3 linked regions of the Homo sapiens genome follow. The protein of the gene in region 2 purifies or fractionates together with the protein of the main gene of each other region. This does not show direct contact. Each region holds a gene or a part of one and is shown on either strand. Other genes may lie near its edges.

What was found.
Region 1: the proteins of MPP1 (region 2) and MYH11 purify together in Homo sapiens (affinity purification with mass spectrometry; 2 studies listed by BioGRID and IntAct, with this or other methods). This does not show direct contact.
Region 3: the proteins of MPP1 (region 2) and XXYLT1 purify together in Homo sapiens (co-immunoprecipitation; 2 studies listed by BioGRID and IntAct, with this or other methods). This does not show direct contact.

Annotation. Positions count from the first base shown.
Region 1 is NC_000016.10:15,713,939-15,721,045, reverse strand, and holds part of MYH11 (myosin-11), read left to right. Parts: coding exon 1-207; intron 208-733; coding exon 734-895; intron 896-1,332; coding exon 1,333-1,461; intron 1,462-1,737; coding exon 1,738-1,826; intron 1,827-2,607; coding exon 2,608-2,731; intron 2,732-3,697; coding exon 3,698-3,906; intron 3,907-5,773; coding exon 5,774-5,882; intron 5,883-5,964; coding exon 5,965-6,137; intron 6,138-7,107. UniProt on the Homo sapiens protein: Muscle contraction.
Region 2 is NC_000023.11:154,781,389-154,788,495, forward strand, and holds part of MPP1 (55 kDa erythrocyte membrane protein), read right to left. Parts: intron 5,013-7,107; coding exon 4,816-5,012; intron 3,770-4,815; coding exon 3,663-3,769; intron 2,721-3,662; coding exon 2,640-2,720; intron 2,120-2,639; coding exon 2,039-2,119; intron 415-2,038; coding exon 212-414; intron 1-211. UniProt on the Homo sapiens protein: Essential regulator of neutrophil polarity. Regulates neutrophil polarization by regulating AKT1 phosphorylation through a mechanism that is independent of PIK3CG activity.
Region 3 is NC_000003.12:195,268,116-195,275,040, forward strand, and holds the start of XXYLT1 (xyloside xylosyltransferase 1), read right to left. Parts: upstream 3,045-6,925; 5' UTR 2,944-3,044; coding exon 2,440-2,943; intron 1-2,439. UniProt on the Homo sapiens protein: Alpha-1,3-xylosyltransferase, which elongates the O-linked xylose-glucose disaccharide attached to EGF-like repeats in the extracellular domain of target proteins by catalyzing the addition of the second xylose.

The sequences.
Region 1 (7,107 bases), on a different chromosome or scaffold from region 2:
GAGCTGGAGAAGTCCAAGCGGGCCCTGGAGACCCAGATGGAGGAGATGAAGACGCAGCTGGAAGAGCTGGAGGACGAGCTGCAAGCCACGGAGGACGCCAAACTGCGGCTGGAAGTCAACATGCAGGCGCTCAAGGGCCAGTTCGAAAGGGATCTCCAAGCCCGGGACGAGCAGAATGAGGAGAAGAGGAGGCAACTGCAGAGACAGGTGCGTGCTGCCGGGGAGGCCAGCAGAGGGAGGTCGGGTGGCCTTTTTCATTCCTATCACCACTCTCATGGTTGGTGTGGAAACTTCGTTTTCTTTATTTTTTTTTGAAACAGAGTCTCGCTCTGTCGCCCAGGCTGGAGTGCAGTGGCGTAATCTCAGCTCACTGCAACCTCCACCTCCTGCCTCAGCCTCCCGAGTAGCTTGGATTACAGGCGCATGCCACCATACCTAGCTAATTTTTTTTTTTTTTTCAGTGGAGACAAGGTTTCACCATGTTGGCCAGGCTGGTCTTGAACTCCTGGCCTCAAGTGATCCATTCTCCTGTTGGCCTCCCAAAGTGCTGGGATTACAGACATGAGCCACCCACGCCCGGCGTGATTCCGTTTTCTCATCTGCAACTGGGGATGAGATGCCCACCTCACAAGGGGGCTGTGCTGGGGAAGGGGTGCAGTGATGTGCTGCCTAGGTGAGCCAAAGGACCTCCCAGGGGCAAGTGGGGCAGCACACATCTCTATTCCTCGCCCAGCTTCACGAGTATGAGACGGAACTGGAAGACGAGCGAAAGCAACGTGCCCTGGCAGCTGCAGCAAAGAAGAAGCTGGAAGGGGACCTGAAAGACCTGGAGCTTCAGGCCGACTCTGCCATCAAGGGGAGGGAGGAAGCCATCAAGCAGCTACGCAAACTGCAGGTGGGTGACACTAGGAGCTTGGGGCATGGGTGGAGGGAGGGCACAGTTCCCCTCAGGCCACCGAAGTCAGCAGAGCGGGCTCCAGGAAGCAAGCCTGCACCTGCCATTGGTGTGGGTTCAGCTGGGGTTTTTCTGGAACCATTCAGGATTTGGTGGCTGTCTCCTGCCCTGGGTAGGGCAGCATTATTAGGTATTTGGCCACTGCCCTCAGATCACATCAGGGGCTCAGCTTCTCAGGCAGGTCTGTGGAGCCCACCCAGAATGGTGCTCCCAGCGCACCACCAGCCACCTGGAACTGAGAGCCATGCTCGTGCAATGGGAACTTCTTTGTGGTCAACTGCAGAAAATCCAAGGGGTGGGTGTGCAAAGCTGAACTGGGCAGCAGAACTTGGGGGAGTAAGGACATCTGAGCTTGTCCTCCCTGTTGACTCATGCAGGCTCAGATGAAGGACTTTCAAAGAGAGCTGGAAGATGCCCGTGCCTCCAGAGATGAGATCTTTGCCACAGCCAAAGAGAATGAGAAGAAAGCCAAGAGCTTGGAAGCAGACCTCATGCAGCTACAAGAGGTAAAGCCTCGCCTTGCTAGGAGAGCCTCAGATGCGGGTGTCACGGTAGCACCCCTTGGCAGCTCCAGTCTGTGCATTCCCAGATTTCATTTCGTCCTCCTCTGGGGTCCACCTGTCTAGAAAGACACACGCTTCCCTCCTCTATGTATTCACGGGGCCTCCCCTGAGCTCAGAGGAAGAACATGTACTTTCAAGGGTGGCTGAGTTGTCAGGGTGGACTCTTGGTGGGGCTTGGCCTTTCCCTGGCAGACAACAGCCTTCCTCCCTCCCACCTAGGACCTCGCCGCCGCTGAGAGGGCTCGCAAACAAGCGGACCTCGAGAAGGAGGAACTGGCAGAGGAGCTGGCCAGTAGCCTGTCGGGAAGGTAGGAAACTGAATGGAGGAAGAGGGCTCTGAAGCAGAGGATGGGGGGACAGGCAGCATCCTCGACCCCCATTTTATTTTTTAAATTTTTTCGAGACAGAGTTTCATTCTGTCACCCAGGCTGGAGGGCAGTGGCACAATCTTGGCTCACTGCAACCTCCACCTCCCAGGTTCAAGCAATTCTCCTGCCTCAGCCTTCTGAGTAGCTGAGACTACAGGTGTGTACCACCATGCCTGGCTAATTTTTATATTTTTAGTAGAGGTGGGGTTTCACCATGTTGGCCAGGCTAGTCTTGAACTCCTGACCTTAGGTGATCCTCCTACCTTGGCCTCCCAAAGTGCTGTGATTACAGGTGTGAGCCACCGTGCCTGGCCCTGGACCCCCATTTCAATGCTGCTGCTGACGAAGCGTCCTCTGAGATTGGGGACAGACCCATGGTGGTTAGGTTTTCCGTCAGCGCTTTCATGCCTGTTTGGGGGTGTGGCTGCTTTCATTCATTCCCAATAAGTAGCTGTGTGGGGAGAAGGGGAGGCCAGGAAGAGTCAGGGAGGAGTGTGCTGGTCCCCATCCCAATCCCAGCTTTGCTGACACGGACCCGGCCTGAGTCCCGGCTGTCCACTTCCTGGCTGTGTAACTACAGATGAGTCTTCTAATCTTCTCCAAGCCTCAGTTTCACCCATTAGATGATGAGGGCAATACCCCTGAGGCATGACTCCAAGGAGGGGGCATCTTTTAAGGCGGGGGAGGGTAGAGGCCCCCACCATGGCCGCCCTTCCCCCAGGAACGCACTCCAGGACGAGAAGCGCCGCCTGGAGGCCCGGATCGCCCAGCTGGAGGAGGAGCTGGAGGAGGAGCAGGGCAACATGGAGGCCATGAGCGACCGGGTCCGCAAAGCCACACAGCAGGTGAGGGCCGCCTGGACACCACAGTCACGCTGCCTACTGTCTCTCCTGCAGCAGGATCCTGCACCAGTCAACACACGCGTGGCGGCTTCCTGTGTGCAGGCCCTGGATTGAGGGACAAGAGGGTGGTGGGGCCTGAGAGTAGAGATCCAGGGCCCTTACACCAGTGCCCAGGCTGCTGTCTTCAGAATACTCCTCTCCACGCTGCAGTGTCTCATTTTCCAGCCACGGCGTGGCTGGCTCCCCGTACCTCACGGCCATCCCTGGAGTCCGGGCCTTGGGATGCTCTTTCATTGCGTTTTCCCCTAGCTGAAGCTCTGACCTTATCCAGTGAGCCCTTGGTGATGTCACTGAGCACTAGTTCCATGGTGGGCACTAGGGACCATCCAGTAACCTGCAGCCCCTTGTGGTGTAGGGTGAACAGGCATCATTCTCCAGGCGACTCCAGGACAGAGAAAGCAAGGGACAAGTCACTCGCTCAGCCTGGGTGGCACTGACACTTGTGGAAGCACCTCTTTTTTTTGGAGACAGGGTCTCTCTGTGGCCCAGGCTGGAGTGCAGTGGCGCAATCTTGGCTCACTGCAACCTCTGCCTCCCAAGTTCAAGGGATTCTCCTGCTTCAACCTCCCAAGTAGCTGGGACTACAGGCACGTGCCACCACTGCCCGGCTAATTTTTGTATTTTTAATAGAGACGGGGTTTCACCATGTTGGCCAGGCAGGTCTCGAACTCCTGAGCTCAAGTGATTTACCTGCCTCTGCTTCCAAAAGTGCTGGGATTACAGGCGTGCGCCACCACGCCCGGCCTGGAAGAAGCTCTTGAGTGGAGTTTTACAGGATGAAGGAGAGGACAGGGTGCCCGGGATCAAGGGACTCGTGCAGAGGCCAAACAAGGCAGGAAGAGGCATGGTCTCAGTGCGCTCTCTTGGGCTTCCCTGAGTCCGCCTCATGGCCTTCACTCTCCTCCCCAGGCCGAGCAGCTCAGCAACGAGCTGGCCACAGAGCGCAGCACGGCCCAGAAGAATGAGAGTGCCCGGCAGCAGCTCGAGCGGCAGAACAAGGAGCTCCGGAGCAAGCTCCACGAGATGGAGGGGGCCGTCAAGTCCAAGTTCAAGTCCACCATCGCGGCGCTGGAGGCCAAGATTGCACAGCTGGAGGAGCAGGTCGAGCAGGAGGCCAGGTATGCGGGTGTGGAGTTCCGAACCCAGTTTGCAGGGGGGTGATGGACAGCAGGAGTCATAGTGAAGTCAGGGAACCTCTTCCAGCATCAGTTCTGGCTTGTAAGAAGCAAGCTCTGTGATGCCTACAGTGCAGGTATGTTGTGAGAACTGAACGTAAACACAGCAAAGTGCCCTGCTGGTTCCTGGCCTAGGGCAAGCACCTAAAGTGTGAGCTGCTCTTAGCATCTCCATGGTCCTCCTGACATTAACCTGCCTTCCCAGCAGTACATATGACTTTTCCCAGCCTCTGCAGGGATAGCATGCTGACAGATCAAAAATCCAACCAGGCTGGACGTGGTGGCTCACGCCTGTAATCCCAGCAATTTGGGAGGCTGAGGCAGGTGGATCACTTGAGGTCAGGAGTTTGAGACCGGCCTGGCCAACATGGTGAAACCCTGTCTGTACCAAAAATTAGCCGAGTGTGGTGGCACATGCCTATTATCTCAGCTACTCAGGAGACTGAGGCAGGAGAATCACTCCAACGTGACACGTGGAGGTTGCAGTGAGCCGAGATTGTGCCACTGCACTGCAGCCTGGGTGACACAGTGGGACCCTTCCACACACATACACACACACAAAAAAAACCCCAAAAAACAAAAGTCCAACCGGCAGCCCATTTGGTACACACACTGGAAGCCTTCTTAATTATGGGTCGAATGAGGCATATGATCACAGCACATTTCTTACCATTGGATTCTAAGGATTCTCACCCATTCTCTTCTAGTAGCTTTTTCAGTAATTCGCACGCCCTGCAATGCACCCATTTAAAGTGTATAATTCAAGGGCTATTCATATATTCACAAACATGTAAAAACGATCACCACAGTCATTTTGAGAACATTTTCATCGGCTCAAACAGAAACCCCAGGCCATATGTGGTATTTCATGCCCATAATCCCGGCACTTTGGGAGGCTGAGGTAGGTGGGAGCAGCACTTGAGTCCAGGAGTTCGAGACCAGTCTGGGCAGCATAGCAAGACTTTTTTATTTTTATTTTTTTGAGACATAGTCTCACTCTGTTTCCCAGGCTGGTGTGCAGTGGTGCGATCTCAGCTCACTGCAACCTCCGCCTCACCCTCCCAAGTAGCTGGGACTACAGGTGCACACCACTGTACCCAGCTTGTAATTGTATTTTTTAGTAGGGATGGGGTTTCACCATGTTGGCCAGGCTGGTCTCGAACTCCTGACCACAGGTGATCTGCCCACCTCGGCCTCCCAGAGTACTGGGATTACAGGCATGAGCCACCACGCCTGGCCAGAGACTCCGTTTCTATGAAAAACTTTTAAAAGTCTGAGCATGCTGGTGTACGCCTGTAGTCCCAGCTACTTGGGAGGCTGAGGTGGGAGGATTGCTTGAGCCAGGAGTTCAAGGCTGCAGTGAACTATGAACTAGGGTGAAGAGCAGGCATTGGAGCACCACTGCACTCCAACCTGGGTCACACAGCAAGACCTTGCCTCCTCCCCGCAAAAAAAATAGAAACCCCATGCCCTGTAACCACTCCCTTCAGTCCCTGGCAACCATAATCTACTTTCTGTCTCTATGAATTTATCTATTCTGGACACTTGATATCAACGGAATCACACACTATGTTGTCTGCTATGTGTCTTCTTTCACTTGGCAAGAATTCCAGGCTCATCCATGCTGTGGCATGCATTGATACTTTATTCCTTTTCATGGCTGAATACTATTCCACCATCTGACTGATTCTTGAGAGGAGTCCAGATACGGGGCTCAGGAAAGCACTCAAGATGCCACCTCCAGGTGACACACCAGCTACAAGGGGTGCCACCCTCCGCTGAAACCACCTGTTTTCCTTGCTGTTTGCAGAGAGAAACAGGCGGCCACCAAGTCGCTGAAGCAGAAAGACAAGAAGCTGAAGGAAATCTTGCTGCAGGTGGAGGACGAGCGCAAGATGGCCGAGCAGTACAAGGAGCAGGTAGCCCCTGCCACCCAGCCTCCCTCGAGCCCCCAGCCCCCAGCCGGCCTCCCCTAACCACCCCTCCAACTCTCCGCGACAGGCAGAGAAAGGCAATGCCAGGGTCAAGCAGCTCAAGAGGCAGCTGGAGGAGGCAGAGGAGGAGTCCCAGCGCATCAACGCCAACCGCAGGAAGCTGCAGCGGGAGCTGGATGAGGCCACGGAGAGCAACGAGGCCATGGGCCGCGAGGTGAACGCACTCAAGAGCAAGCTCAGGTGAGGAGCCCGTGGCCCGGGAGGACCCCGTCTCTCAGGCCAGAGAAAAGCACTGGGGGCTCGGGCTCCTTTCGGCCTGCAAATGCCCCTTGTGCCCACAGCCGCCACTCCCTTCTGTGGTTTATTCCTGCTTCTCCTTAATCACTAAGCTTAGTGTGGGCCAGGCACTGAGATCAGACCCGGGCCCTGCCTTGCCTGGTAGCAGCTAACCTTCTAGATCCTTTAACGATCGACCGTCTCCCATCCGGTCCTCCGGCTGAGGAGGAGGAAGAGGCTATCCCCACTGTCTCCTCCAGCCCCTCCTTCATTGCATCACTGAGTCTTCACGACATCCATTGAAGCTGCAACACCACCCCCCGCCACTTCACCTCCTTCCTGACATGCTCTGCTCCTCCTTTCTCCCCCTCAGCACTGCTGCCATCTGGGCTGCATTATTCTCGGGTATGGGGGCTGTCCGACATTCCCCATCAGAAGGAAAAAGATCCCTGAAAAGTAGCAGGTGCTTACATTTCTGGCCTCTACCCACCGGCTGCAGTAGTCCCCCACCACCCTGCAATGTGACAACCAAAAATGTCTCTAGATGTTGCCAGAAGTCCTCTAGAGATGGGAGGGTACGACTGCCACCCCGCTGAGAATTCCTGCTGTCACTGGAGTGGGGGCTGTTTTCTCTCCCATGCCTCTGGTACCTTGGGGGTCCCCCCTGCTCCCAAGGGCTGCTTCCACCACCCTGTCCATCCATCCCGATTGGCTCCCAGGAGGTTTTAGCTCCGGGCTTCCTGTCTCCCACACCACTCCTCACAGTTCTCCATGATTTCAACATCCAGGTGGGCGACGCAGCCTCTCGGTTCCTTGACCCTCTGGGTGATCCTGCTGCTTCTACCGGGCCAACCAGTACTCCTAGGAGCCCTCACAATTTGACCCTCAGGCATCCCATTGTCTGCCTGGTGCCACCTTTCTTTGGCTCTGTCCC
Region 2 (7,107 bases):
GCTGTCATAATGGATTCCTTCTAATAAGCAGCTTTGAGCTTTACCCCAATACAACTTTCCATCATTCCCAGTACTACTGTTCTTGTTCCAGGCTGACCCCATTAAAAGGCTGAAGCAATCCTGAGCCCCCAGAAGATTCCCAAGGAGCACTGTCTTCGCCATCCCTTGTGTGGCTGAGCCCATCTGTCCCTGCCCTTCCATGCCTACCCACCTGGGGCTCAATGTCAAGGATGGCAATCTTGTTCTGCTTATGGATCTGGTGCACTGTTTCAAATTTGGTGCCAAACATGTTGCCTTGGTAGCTGCCAAACTCCAAGAACTCATTGGCAGAGATGTTCCTCGTCATCTCCTCCGTTGAGATAAAGTGGTACTCCTTCCCATCTTCCTCACTCTTCCTTGGCGGCCGTGTTGTATCTGTGTACAAGAACCCAAATCCCCGACAAACTCCAGGTCCTCACCCTTTCATGAGGGCTTGGACCATGGTGTCTGTATGGAAACCCTAGCTGCCTTTGGTGCATTGACTTTAATACAGGGGTTCCTCCCGTGGGCTCCTGAAGAGCTGATGCTAGAAAGTGATGCACACCAGGAAATCCCTCCATCTGCCCAGGACACATTTAATTTTTAAGGGGCAAAGCCTAACATAGAAAATTCCTATTATCATTTTCCCTAAATGAAGTTACATCTCTCAAACTACCAAATCTAGGAATATTGAAACTTAGAAATGAAGATAGCGGAAAATATTTTAAAAACAGATCTACAGACTATGGTCAGGATTTCTTGGAAATATATTTAAGGTTTCCTTTTCATGACTTGGAAAGAAGAGTACTTTGGTTTAGTTTCAGCTCATGTTGTTAAAAGTTGGACTATTTTCTATTACTCATATAAATTGTCTAATCAGTAAAATATGCTCCAGATATTGTAGCTTGAAACACAATCCTCCCAACCTCCCCTCTTTCCATCTTCCATTGACTGTCTCCTTTGCCTTCCGGATCACACTTGTCTCTCAACTGGCCCCTTCCCCTCAATCTACAACCACATGTGATTCTCTTGAAGGAGGAGCCTGTACTGGTTATTTCTGCTTCCCCACTCACTCCTGGGGCCATCTCTTTCTGCTCCTAATGTGACACTGGAATAACTCTTATGTCCCTCCAGCAACGAGACAACTCTCAATGATCCATGTGTAAAAAAGCAAAATGAAGAAAGAATTAAAAAATAGTAATATGAGGTTTAGAATCTGGTTTTCTATTTTGCTTAGCAGTACAGTAATTCCTCACTTAATATTATTATCAGTAGGTTCTTAGAAAATGTGACTTTAAGTGAAATCACATGCAGCTGGTCGTTGACTAACATGGTTTAGTTCAACTTCATTTCATTGTATTGTTGATGAGTAAAAAAACTGGTTCTTGTTATATGTCATTTCACTTAAAGTCACAGTCTTCGAAGAGCCTATTGACAATATTAAGTGAGGAATCACCGTATTTCTTTCTGGGAACATACACAACTATACCATGCAGCATCACTTCTGGGAATGGAAGAGTTATCAAATTCTCCACCTGATCACTGGCGCTACTCTTCTCCATATCTAGGACTGCTGTTGAGATCGTTTGGGCCTTTCCTAGGCACTGCTTTGATTTAGAAGACATTCCATGAAAATGAGAGGCAGCCTGAACATCAAGAGTGGGATAGTTCTCAAAGAGAATTAGGCAAATTGCAGAGGAACATGAGAAAATGTTTAAAAAGTAAAATGACAAAGTTATATGTATAAACTTTAATACTTAGTAATTTTTAAGGCAGTATCAAAATGTTTACTATAGCTTCTGTTATGTAGACAAACAGCACGAATAACAATAAGAAAACAGTTATTCTGTTAGGTGGAGGAATTGTGGGCACAAATTTTTATCTTTCCATATTTTGTTTAGTTTTAATAATCATTTAAAATAAAATAATTTAAAAAATAATAAAATAACACTATGGTATTTCAGATGGCGAGTGGTACCAGCCTGTCACCTCCCCTCCAAGGTGCCTAAGAGCTACTTACATGGGACAGGGTACACAAACTTCTCCGGATTCTGGCTGAGCAGGGCATTCTTAATGTGGCTGCGACCCACCCCACTGGCTCCTGTGTAGAGAGAGAAGAACATCTTTTGGAAAGGGGGGAGAGGAGCGAGGATAAGATACGGATTTTCCTCTCTCGGCACTCAAAACTGCCAACAGGTGAACATGAGTTGGGGTTGCATCTGGGCTGGGGTCAACTCTAAAGACAGGAAGGTGAGCAGTCCGCCAGAGGCAAAGCCTACATACCTGGGTTTGAAGCAAGGACTTACTCTGTTTCAGGTCAGAGTCACTGCTTGGGGGAAGGGAGATTTACAAAGCGTATCACTGCCAGCAGACAGCATGAAACCTAACCAAAAATAATTCGTTGCTAAATAGTAGAGAAACTTGTAAGGTTTAGTTTCATTTGTGAGGTGGACCCAGGTGGGGTGCACGTGAGGATTCAGAAAATTCCTTACACCTGCTCTATATGGAGAACCCAAGAGACCTCAGTTCTTTTCTTCCTCACTGCCTTTTTTGGGGGTGGGCACGTGATGCAGGCAGGAAAACAAAGACAGAAATGTGCAAATGGGGCAATGAGAAGATACCGATCAGCACCAGGGTCTTCCTCTTGAATGCAGGGAGCCGAACGACTTCCTCGTAGGAAACAACATCCAACTGATCAAAAACTAGAGACAAAGAAAACCAAGCAGTGTTCATTTCCAGAGCTAGGGAGAACAGTGGTCCACACTCTGAAATGGGAAACAGCCTCGCGACATCTCAACAAGCAGGGAGGAAGTGACTAGAGATGAGACGAGGGAGGTTGGTGTGGAGGAAGGACTTTGGACTGTATTTTTAGTGTGGTGAGGGAATTTTGAGCAAGGGAGTTTATCTAACTTTTGCACCCTCTCTTCCTCCTTGCCCTATCTCTCTGAGCCAACTTTTCTTGTCTCCTGTCCTCATCTCTTCTCCATAGTTTCAGTATCAGATGTTCCCTTGGCACTTAGAGCTGAAGAATGCCAATGCTATCTCGGTTCTGCCTGAATGTCCCTTATCTTAGAAGATGGTGGTGCTATTGACCCAGCTGCTCAAGATAGAGACCTGGTGTCATCCTGACTCTCCACCCCCTTACCTGCCTACAACCCAAGACTGCCACGATCATTCCCTGGCTGGTGGTGTGCACGTGACGTCTCAGAAAAGAGAAATGCAGATGGAAAGCTGACCGTGCGAATTCTCTGCTCAAAACCCTTCACCAGCTCCACAGTCTATAGTGCAAAATTTAAAACGCTAGGGAGGGTGCACGAAGCTCCCTATGACCTGGCCCTGGCCTCTCCCTCTGGCCTGTGTTCTTGCCTCACTTCCCCTCTCCCACCACATCTACTTCTGTGTGAGGGGTGGGGTGATGAGCAGGTGTGGGCTCACCACTAGTCCTCCTTTACATCCACTGGCCTGACTGCAGCAAGCTTGTGAAGATGGATTCAATAAAAAGAAACCAGAAGAAATGACATGCTTTCTGTAGAATGCGCCTTCTGCTGCGCACTGCACCACCTCCCCTTTTCTGCTGGTTACAGAGACTGGGAAACACGTGAATGCTGCCAGGAACCTGGGGCAAGAAGGCTCAGAAAGCTTACTCGAGCTGTGCTTGGCCAGATATTTGTCTTTGTACTTCTTCTTCTTCCCAAAGGGACTGCAGCTCGGGGCTTCGCTAGGAGCTGACTGAGCCATACTTGCCACTCGCCTGGTAGGAAAAGACAATCAAGGGGTCAGCTTTCCTCCCCCTCCCCTCATACCCCCCCCAGCCACTCAGTCTCTAATGGCACCCCCTTCACTCTCTGAGTGTCCATTACAGTGGGAGATAATGTGTGCAAAGCACCCCATACACTGTTTGGTGCATCTTGCACTGTGCCCTGCCCTCAGTCAGGGACCTGGCTCCTTGAGTCTGTGTCATCTAGTACCTGTCAGCACATTCTGGACACAACCCACAAACAACTCTCTTTCTTTGGTCTAGACCATAAAGGTCTCAAACCTTTATGACCCTACCTCACTCTAAGAAATACACTGTACATTGCAAGCCATTATTGCACATACATCTATAAACAAAACACATACACACACCCCACATATATATCTAAAACAACTGCTTCACAAAACAATAACTTGTATTACTACATGTAATATATTCTAATATTTCTATTCAGTGTCAACCCCACAATGGTTGTAATCTTTACACTGGGGTAAGTTTGCACAGGCAGAGGGAGGCTCAGTGTTGGATGTCTTATCAGTTGGAACTGTTTTGTGAATTTTTCTGCCATTCCTATGATGTAACCAGGACTAAGTGAGCAATCTGACTCGGGGACAGGAATTATTTCTTCCATGTACCAGGAATGTGCCTAAAGGACACATACTTAAATGCGACTGTTTTCTGCAGGACTCCAAGGAAATCCCAGAAACAGCATGGCTGGTAGAAGCGCACTAGCTTGGGAAACAGGAGACCAGGGAGGGCTCAGTCCCAGCACTGTCACGTGCTTGGTAACTATGGGGAAAACGTTTAAGGAAGCAAGAGGCCCACATAAGAATGAAGAGCTATTTGGGCTCCCTTGCCTGTGGTTGCCTCTCAGTCCAGCTTATCAACGCATGGTTAACCCTCCCCCACCCATTATGCCAGGAAATCTAGGAGGTCTCCTTGGTTGAGAAACAGAAACTACAAACAAAATGACAGATTTTCTGAAGCTAAGTTATTTGTGGCAGGCACATGGCCCTTCCACCTGCACAAAAATGGCTCACCATTCCTGCAGCTCAGGGGAAGGGATCAATCCTGCTGACTCCTTGGAGGAGCCTTCCACCCGTCCCTGCCACCAATTGCTGTCATCCTTGTTGATAATCTGGATAATGTCCCCAGTAGCAAACTTCAGTCCCGCCTCCTTGCAAGGGATCAGATTGTCCTTTTTGGGATCATAGTCAAACTGCGCTCTCATGAACATCTAAAAAGAAGGTAAAAGGAACTGCAGGCGGCAGCTTCAAAAGAAACACCAGCATCAGAGCATGTCCTGCTGTAGACAAATGGGGTCAGGATGGAATGAACAACAGGGAGGTAAGAATGGTGGGGGAGCACCCAAGAAAGAGAAATTGAAACGCTGAAGTGATTGTGTTTGCGGAGGGGTCAGAATGAATCCCTTTAACAAGAAGGCATGAGAAGCCAGGCGCAGTGGCTCACGCCTGTAATCCCAGCACTTTGGGAGGCCGAGGCGGGTGGAACACATGAGGCTAGGAGTTGGAGACCAGCCTGGCTAACATGGTGAAACTCCGTCTCTACTAAAAATACAAAAATTAGCTGGGTGTGGTGGCGTGCACCTGTAGTCCCAGCTACTCGGGAGGCTGAGGCGGGAGAATCGCTTGAACCCGGGAGGTGGAGCTTGCAGTGAGCCGAGATTGTGCCACTGCACTCCAGCCTGGGCGACAGAGTGAGACTCCGTCTCAAAAAAAAAAAAAAAAAAAAAAAAAAAGAAGGCATGAGATATCTTTCCACGTCAACGTGTCCACAGTTACTGCTGGATCTGGGTCGTCTGTCTCAGTACAGGGCAGCTACTCTTTGAACAACTGTTTTCACAATTGAAAATATGGACACTCATATCTATCAAAGAACTTGAATTTATTATTGAAAATTCTCCTCTCCTGCTCCCAAACACACACACACACACACACACACACACACACACACACACACACACCTACCTCATTACTTCATTGACAAATTTTCCAAGCATCATTTGAAGAAAGAAGGCTAATCTCATACGAAAACAGATTATAGAAAATGATGGCACTTCCCAACTCATTATAAGCATGATACCCAAATCTGACAAGAATCTTATAATTTCTCTCTGCAACAGAGATGTAAAAACCCCAAACAAAATATCAGCAAGTCAAATTTAGTTATGTATAAAAAGTATAATAAATCACAACCAAACAGGATCTAGTTCAGCAATATAAGAAGGTTTACTACCTGAAGGGCAATAAATTCACCACGTTAACATAAAAATGGAAAAAGATCATATGATCCCCTCAATAGATGCAGAAAAAGCCTGTGATAACATTCAAAACCCATTCAAGATTAAAATTCTTAGCAAACTTGGAATAGAAGGGAGGTTCTTTACTGTGAGAAAGAATACCTACAGAAACCCTACATCCAACGTCATACTTCTCAGTGAAAGATTAAAAGCTTTCCCTGCCTTTTTCAAAGGACATGGGTCTTGCTATGTTACCCAGGTTGGTCTCGAACTCCTGGGCTCAAGCAATCCACCCGCCTCGGCCTCCCAAAGTGCTAGGATTACAGGCGCATGCCACCACACCTGGCCAGCTTTCCCTTTAAGATGGAAAAATAAACAAAGATGTCTGCTATCATCACTTCCACTGGGATACTGTGAAGATGCCTCTTTTATCCAAACTGATATGTAGGTTTGACACAGGGATAAACAAACAGTCCAAAAGAAAAGAATAAAAAGTTCCAAAATAGACCTGTAAATATTACCATGACAAAAGTGACAGTGTACAGTAAATGATACTGGTTCAATTGGTATCCATATGGAAAAACTGGAATCTTGACCTCTTACCTTACAATGTATATAACAATCAATCCCAGATGGGTTGTGGATCCAAATGTGAAAAATCAAACAAGTAAGCATTTAGAAGAAAACACAGGAGAATATCTTGTTGACCTTGTGGTAAGTAAAAACTTTTAAAACAAGACATAAAAAGTGCTAATCAGAAAAAAGTGGTAGATTGGATTTCATTAAAATTAAGAGTTTCTAGTCATTAACAGGAACCATGAAGAAAATAAGCCACAGAAGAAGAGAACATACTTGGGATGCATATGACAAAGGACTCTTATCCAGAATATATGAGGAACTGCTACAAATCAGTAAGAAAAGCCTTGAATTGGTATCTTACAAAAGAGGATATCCAAGTGGAAAAAAACATATAAAAAGGAGTTTACCCTCATTAGTCATTAGAGAATTTTTAGAATCACAATGTGATACCACCATCAGGATGGCCAAAGGGTGAAAAAAAACCCAACAAATC
Region 3 (6,925 bases), on a different chromosome or scaffold from region 2:
TTATCAAAAACAAAACAAAACAAAGTAACGGAGGCCAGGCGCGGTGGTTCACGCCTGTAATTCCAGCACTTTGAGAGGCCAAGGTGGGTGGATCACCTGAGGTCAGGAATTTGAGACCAGCCTGGCCAACATGATGAAACCCCATCTCTACTAAAAATACAAAAAATTAGCCGGGCGTGGTGGCGGGCGCCTGTAATCCCAGCTACTCAGGAGGCTGGGCCAGGAGAATCACTTGAACCTTGGAGGCAGAGGTTGCAGTGAGCCGAGATCACACTGTTGCACTCCAGCCTGGGCGACAAGAGCAAAACTCTGTCTCAAAAAAAAAAAAACAAAAAATTTAGCCAGCGTGGTGGTGGGCACCTGTAATTCCAGCTACTCGAGAGGCTGAGGCAGAATCGCTCGAACCCAGGAGGCAGAGGTTGCAGTGAGCTGAGATCGTGCCACTGCACTCCAGCCTAGGCAACAAGAGCGAAACTCCATCTCACAAAAAAAAAAAAGAAGTAACGGGAGCAATTTTATGCCAGGACTGATAACCCCTTATCCAATCACTGACATCTGGCTAGAAGTCCCCAGACACTAAACCCTCACCCCTCAACAGAGGAGGTATCAGTTCCCTCTGGTCATTTGCAGCTGCCTCCAGGCCTTGAGTGAGGCTGCCAGAACTGGGCCCAGTAAAGTGGGGTAGTCCGAGCATGAAACACTTACTCCAAGACAGGAGGGGCTCGGCCCTGAGGCTGGATCTACCCCTGGGCCAATATTTCTGGTGCCAACTAAGAGTGCCAGGCATTGTACATAGGGATGGATGATAAGACATGATACAGTCACAGCACCAGGGAAGTAGAAAAGGAAAGAAGGGACGCTTCCTTGGCTCCAAGGAGGGGATGGTATCTGAAGATGGGCAAGACTTGGAGATGGAGAGAAGGAGCACCCCAACAGTGGGAATGACAAAAGCAAAGGCAAGTAGGCTGGAAAGCACTGGCTGTGCAGCTAGCGCTGCAGCGGGAGCTGGGGACAAGGGGACAGAGATCCGGCAACGGTGCAGAGTAGGCCCAGAAGAGATGACAATGCTATCTTCAAGGCGGTGTTTGGAGACCTGGTCAAATCCCAAGATCTGCCCAGACTGACCCTATGGCCAAGGGCCCTCAGTTTTCTACCGTGAACTAGTGCAAAGTTTCTCAAATATTAGGGTCATTAGGATCACCTGGGACAGGTTGCCAGGCTCCTCCTCCAGCGAGGACCTTCAGAGGTCCCAGGGTCTAGGGACTTTCTCAGGAGAGGTGAAAGCTGAGTAAAGAATGGCCAAGGGCCCAAGAGGACACTGTGGGCAGACAGTACAGCATGTATAAGGCCCACTCCCTACATAGCTAAGGTATGAGGTGCATGTAGACAAAGGAGGAGAGGTGAAGCCAGAGAAGTGGACCAGGCTCACAACACAACAGCCCTACCAATAAACTGGGACTTCACCCCGTAGGCAACAAGGAGCTATCAGAGACTCCCGAAGCCTGTAGGATCCTGGCAACAGCTCCCCTAGTCACTCACATAATACAACTCCTGTCTCAGCATGCTTCCCCAACCAACATCAGTCTCCACCCTTTAATATTACCTACTACTCCTTAAAATCTGGCCTCGGATCCCCTCTGTACAACTATTAGGTCAAAATCAAATAAGCAATTTGACCTAGGCAATTCACACTATGTCAGAAACACATCTCAGACAAGGAGAGCCAGGCAGTGAAGACAGATGATAAACAGAGATGGAAGCTGTCATGGAGGCAGACTGGTCCAGCCTGGGACAAGGCGGCCAGCTGTGCTCTCCCCAGATCATATCTGTTCCTCTTGAGCTTTCTCTTCCTCATTCGGAGGAACTCCAGGCTTCTCTAAATGGGTTCATGACCCTTGGAGGAAGGGGAAAAAGGGACACAGAGAGGAGATAAGATGGTTCACAATGAGTTTGACCAGATCCTACTGAAATACCTTAAGAGCAATGAGAAGTGTCACTGCAACTTCAACACTTCCAGAGGCCTCACCAAGGCCCTCTCCAGTTGCTCAGGATGACTACTGGTGACCAGTCCCATCCTCAGAAGTCAAAAACTGAGGAACATAAACAGAGGTGCAGACTCTGAAGGCAGTGCTGAACCCTGCAACGTTAGCAAAATGGGGGCGCGCGGACTCTCCTGGGGGCTGCGCTTAACTGGGGGAGAGGAAAACGAGGCGGTCATTAAAAACGCAGCTCCACTCCTCAGCACCAGCTGAGGGCGTCTGGCTCCCGGACACGCCCCCGAACGAGCCCTCCCGCAGGTTGTGAACACTACATTGCAAGCGGGCAGCTCAGGGAAGATCCTACCCGCTAGTTCCCCGGATCCCCTCCGGGAGCGCAAACTGACCTCGCCTAGGATGGGGTGGGCCACCCACCGGGAGCCCCCAGCCGCGGCCCGCTCACCTTGCACTTGAAGCCAGCGGCGGGCGGCAGGAGCTCCCGCAGCAGGCCCTTGGCCACCTCGCGGCTGGCCTCCTCGCTCACGAAGTGAAGGTTAAGCACCTCGTGCGCCTCGAACTTGGCGAGGCGCAGCAGTGAGCGCAGCGCGACGCGGGCCTTGGCCTGCAGCGCGGCATTGTGCTCCGCCTTGGTGAACATCATCAGCAGGTGGTAGTCCACCGGCCCGGCACCGCCGCCCTCCAAGCTCTTGGCCTTCGCGCCGGGGGCTGGCGCCACGGAGCCCCGCGCTAGCTCCAGCGCGGGCGGCGAGGGCGCGGCGGGAGCCCCGGCGCGGGCCTCCTTCAGCCTCTTGGTGGCGCTGGAGAAGGTCTCCCGGCCTGAGCCGAGGTAGTAGAAGGCGCAGACGGCCAGCGCCGCGGCCAGCAGCAGGGCGCAGTAGTGGGAGCGCACAGCGCCCAGGCGCGCCATGGCCCGAGCGCATGGGAGCCCGCCTCGGAGGAGGCCCATGCGCTACGAGACCGCGGCGCCAGCGGTGCCAGCAACGCGGGAGAGCCCTCGGGTACCCGGACGCCGGCGGCCACTTAGCCCCGGCGCCAGGCGGCGGCCATGAAAGGGGCGGGGCCGCGCCGCCTGGAGCCAATCGCGGGCGCCGGTGCGCGGAGGGGCGGGGCCGGGCGTGCCGAAACCGCTGGGTCCTAGGTTCCAAGGGTATTAGAGGAGGGGTTAGGGTGGGATCCGGCGCCCGGCGTTGGGAGGGGGGGATTCCGGACTCCAGCGTGCTGAGGGCTGGCCCGCTGTCCCGGCTGAGAAATGGCGCCCTACGCGGCGAGCCCCAGAGGATATCCAAGCTGAGTGTTGAAGGGAATGGAGGCGCCCGAACAGAGGAACTTAGGTTAGCCAAAAGCGAAGCTGGAGGCACCAAGAGGTAAAACTTTAATCTCTGCACCTTTTTTCCCTCAATTTCTTGGAGGCTTTAAGCCGTCTCGGCCTCTCCCTGCACACGAGCTGCAGCTAGGCAATTTAAACCGGCAGCTCCTCCCTTTTCCCCCGCCCTGGGAGGAAATGGCCCGGGCCGCACGTCGCGCCGGAGGCCGAGCGGAGGGAGGCTGGAGGATGTGGCCAGCAGGGGGCCCCCGCCGCCCGCACGAACCTGCGAGGCTGCTCCCCGAGCCCCAGCACCGCAAAGCCCTGGAGGGCGACATTCATCCACTTTTGTTTTATAAACAGACTTTTAACACTTTATCAAGAGCCTCCTTGAGGGTACCAGGGAGTTTTGCACGCCGAGGTCACGTGCCCAAAGTCACACAGCTAGCCAGTAGCAATTTTGACCCTAGGCAGTTGCACACTGCTAACTAGATAAAAACGTACTAACTTCAGTCTTCTAAGAATTGAGGCTATACCAGTAGTTTTTAAGTAAACACGTGCAAGTGCTGTGCATGCTGTCTAAATAGACAAAGAACTTGAGTAAGTACAGTAACCCTTCAGTTCTTTGGCCAAGTTCTCTGATTTCTGACCAGAGATTAGGTAAACGGTTTTTCCTGTTATTTCCACATTGTAAGGTTGCATGGATTATCCAACCTCTCTGCTTCAGACCTTGGCTTACATGTCACTACCTACACAAATGATCTCTAAATACCTCCTATCCAGTGTCTGGGCTAAGTGCCATCCTCAATAATTCTGTGAGGGCCACCTAAATATATGTACTACCCTAGTCTCATCTTTCTTCATTGCAAGAACACGTGACTCCAAGAGAACAGAATATACATTTGTTTTTTATTAACCACAATATACCCAGTACCTAACACGGTGCCTACCACATTGGATGAGTCTCAAAAATATACTCAACCATTGAAACAGCATTTTTATTTCTAGAAAATCTTCCTAATAATTTAAGAATGTTCAAAATATTTAACCATAAGAATAAAGCAAGGCCAAGCATGGTGGCTTAGGCCGGGAATGGTGGCTCACGCCTGTAATCCTAGCACTTTGGGAGGCCGAGGAGGGCAGATCACCTTAGGCCAGGAGTTCGAGACCAGCCTGCCCAACATGGCGAAACCCCGTCTCTACTAAAAATACAAAAAATTAGCCAGACATGGTGGCGGGCGCCTGTAATCCCAGCTACTCAGGAGGCTGAGGCAGAAGAATCGCTTGAACCTGGGAGGTGGAGGTTGCAGTGAGCCGAGATCATAACACTGCACTCCAGCCTGGGCGACAAGAGCAAAACTCTGTCTCAAAAAAAAAAAAAAAGTAGGCAGTGTGGTGGCGGACACCTGCAATTCCAGCTACTCGAGAGGCTGAGGCAAGAGAATCGCTTGAACCTAGGAGGCAGAGGATGCAGTGAGCCGAGATCATAACACTGCACTCCAGCCTGGGCGACAAGAGCAAAACCCTGTCTCAAAAAAAAAAAAAAAGTAGGCAGTGTGGTGGCGGACACCTGCAATTCCAGCTACTCGAGAGGCTGAGGCAAGAGAATCGCTTGAACCTAGGAGGCAGAGGATGCAGTGAGCCGAGATTGTGCCTCTGTACTCTAGCCTGGCGAAAGAGAGCGAGACCCTGTCTCAAAAAACAAACATAAAAATAAAGCAAAGCTAGGTTCATGATGGCAAAAAATCAGAATCAAATGGTCATCAATAAAGTGGTTAAAGCTAAAATAATGCAGTCATTAAAAGTGATGTTTTCAACAAACTGCAGGTGGAAATTTAAAAAACTAACAAATGGGTGAGGTGGCTCATACCCGTACTCCAAGCTATGTGGGAGACTGAGGTGGGAGGATCACTTGAGCTCAGGGGTCCAAGGCTGCAGTGAGCTACGATCGCCACAGGACTCCAGCCTGGATGACAGTGCGAGACCCCAATTCCAAAAAAAAAATAGTAATGGTAACAAATGGAAAAAAAAACCTACAGAGACTAAGAAACATATTCACCAACTGCAACGTATGGAACTTATGTGAATTCTGATTTGCACGATCTATTTTAAAAATCGTATTTGAGAAACCAATTTGAATATTGATTATGTAGTTTTACAGTTTAAGAAGTGTTACGATTTTTTAAAGTCCTCAACTTTTAGATGTACATACGGAATGATTTGCTGGTGAAAGGTCTAGGATCTGGTTCCAAAAAGTCCAGGAAAGGGGAAAAATGGGTAGGAGAACAAATATAAGCCATGAGCTTATAGCTATTGATTTTCTCTACCTGTACATGCTTGAAATTTCCCATAAAGTTCTCCCCATCTATTAAGTGAAAGAAGTGGGTAACTGTATGATCCCATTATATAAATGTATGAATACACACACCCAAAGGTCTAGAAGGGTATACACAAAAAAGTAACAGTATCTCCCTCAGTGCTATCCAGTAGAACTTCCTGTGACAATGTATATATTCTACAATCTCCCCTGTTCAAAACAATAGTCACTAGCCACATGGGGCTATAAAGTTCTTAAAATGTAGCAGTACGACTGAGGAAATGAACTCTTTGTCTAATTCCAATTAAGTAGCCACATGTAGCTAGTGAGTTCCATTTTGGACAGCACAAGATAATGGAATTGTGGATGATTCTCTTGCTTCTTCTTAACATTTCTCCACAAGCAAAAAGCTTTGTGTTTGCAATAATTGAAAAATTAAACTGTTTTCACTTAAAATATTTATAGACTATTGATGTGGGTTCTCCACAGAACTATTCTGAAAATGAAATGAAGCTGAATAAAGCAAGTTATATTGAAAAGTTTATGTGTCTGCTTTCAATTAGCTTTTTTTTTTTTAAAGCAAATGCAGGTGATACACTTCCAGTTTGGTTTTTTCAACCTTCCATTCCTTCAGTCCCAATTCACTGACAAACGTGTGTGTGTCTGTTTACTAAAAGGATAAAATGGGAATGTGCTGCATAGATTAGGAACATTAATGTCAATCATAATGGAAAAAACTTAGAGCAAGCCCCTCCCCCCACCCCCCAAAAAAAACCTTTTATCTTTTTGCCAATGAATTAGGGGCTATAACAGCTCTGTGAACAAAGAGAATTATATACTTAAAAGATCCAAATGGATTTCTTGATTGAAGTAATCAGCAAATAGGATGAATGTGGATTTGAAAGGGCTGGGAAGAAATACCTTAAAAATAATAGTACCTTAAAAATAACTGCTGTTGACAGATATGTTCACAGTGTATTTCACAAGAAAATGTAAATCACCATGAAAGAACTAAGCCAGAGGTGAGATCTTTATTGACTTATTGTAATTTTTTGGCATACAAATTACTTAAGTATATTTACAATTCTTACATAATGTACATTTTAGAAGATAATGTACTTTGCTCCATTTACAATGACAAACTACTGTAAAACTACATTCATGAATTAGATACAAATCCTCTACATACTAATAAAAAGTAAATGGACTGTTGGTTATACATTCTTTAAAATATACCTTTTCACAGGTAGCAAGAAATAGTACATGTAATAAGTCTTTATGACTGGAATGATCCAGAAATATCACAAA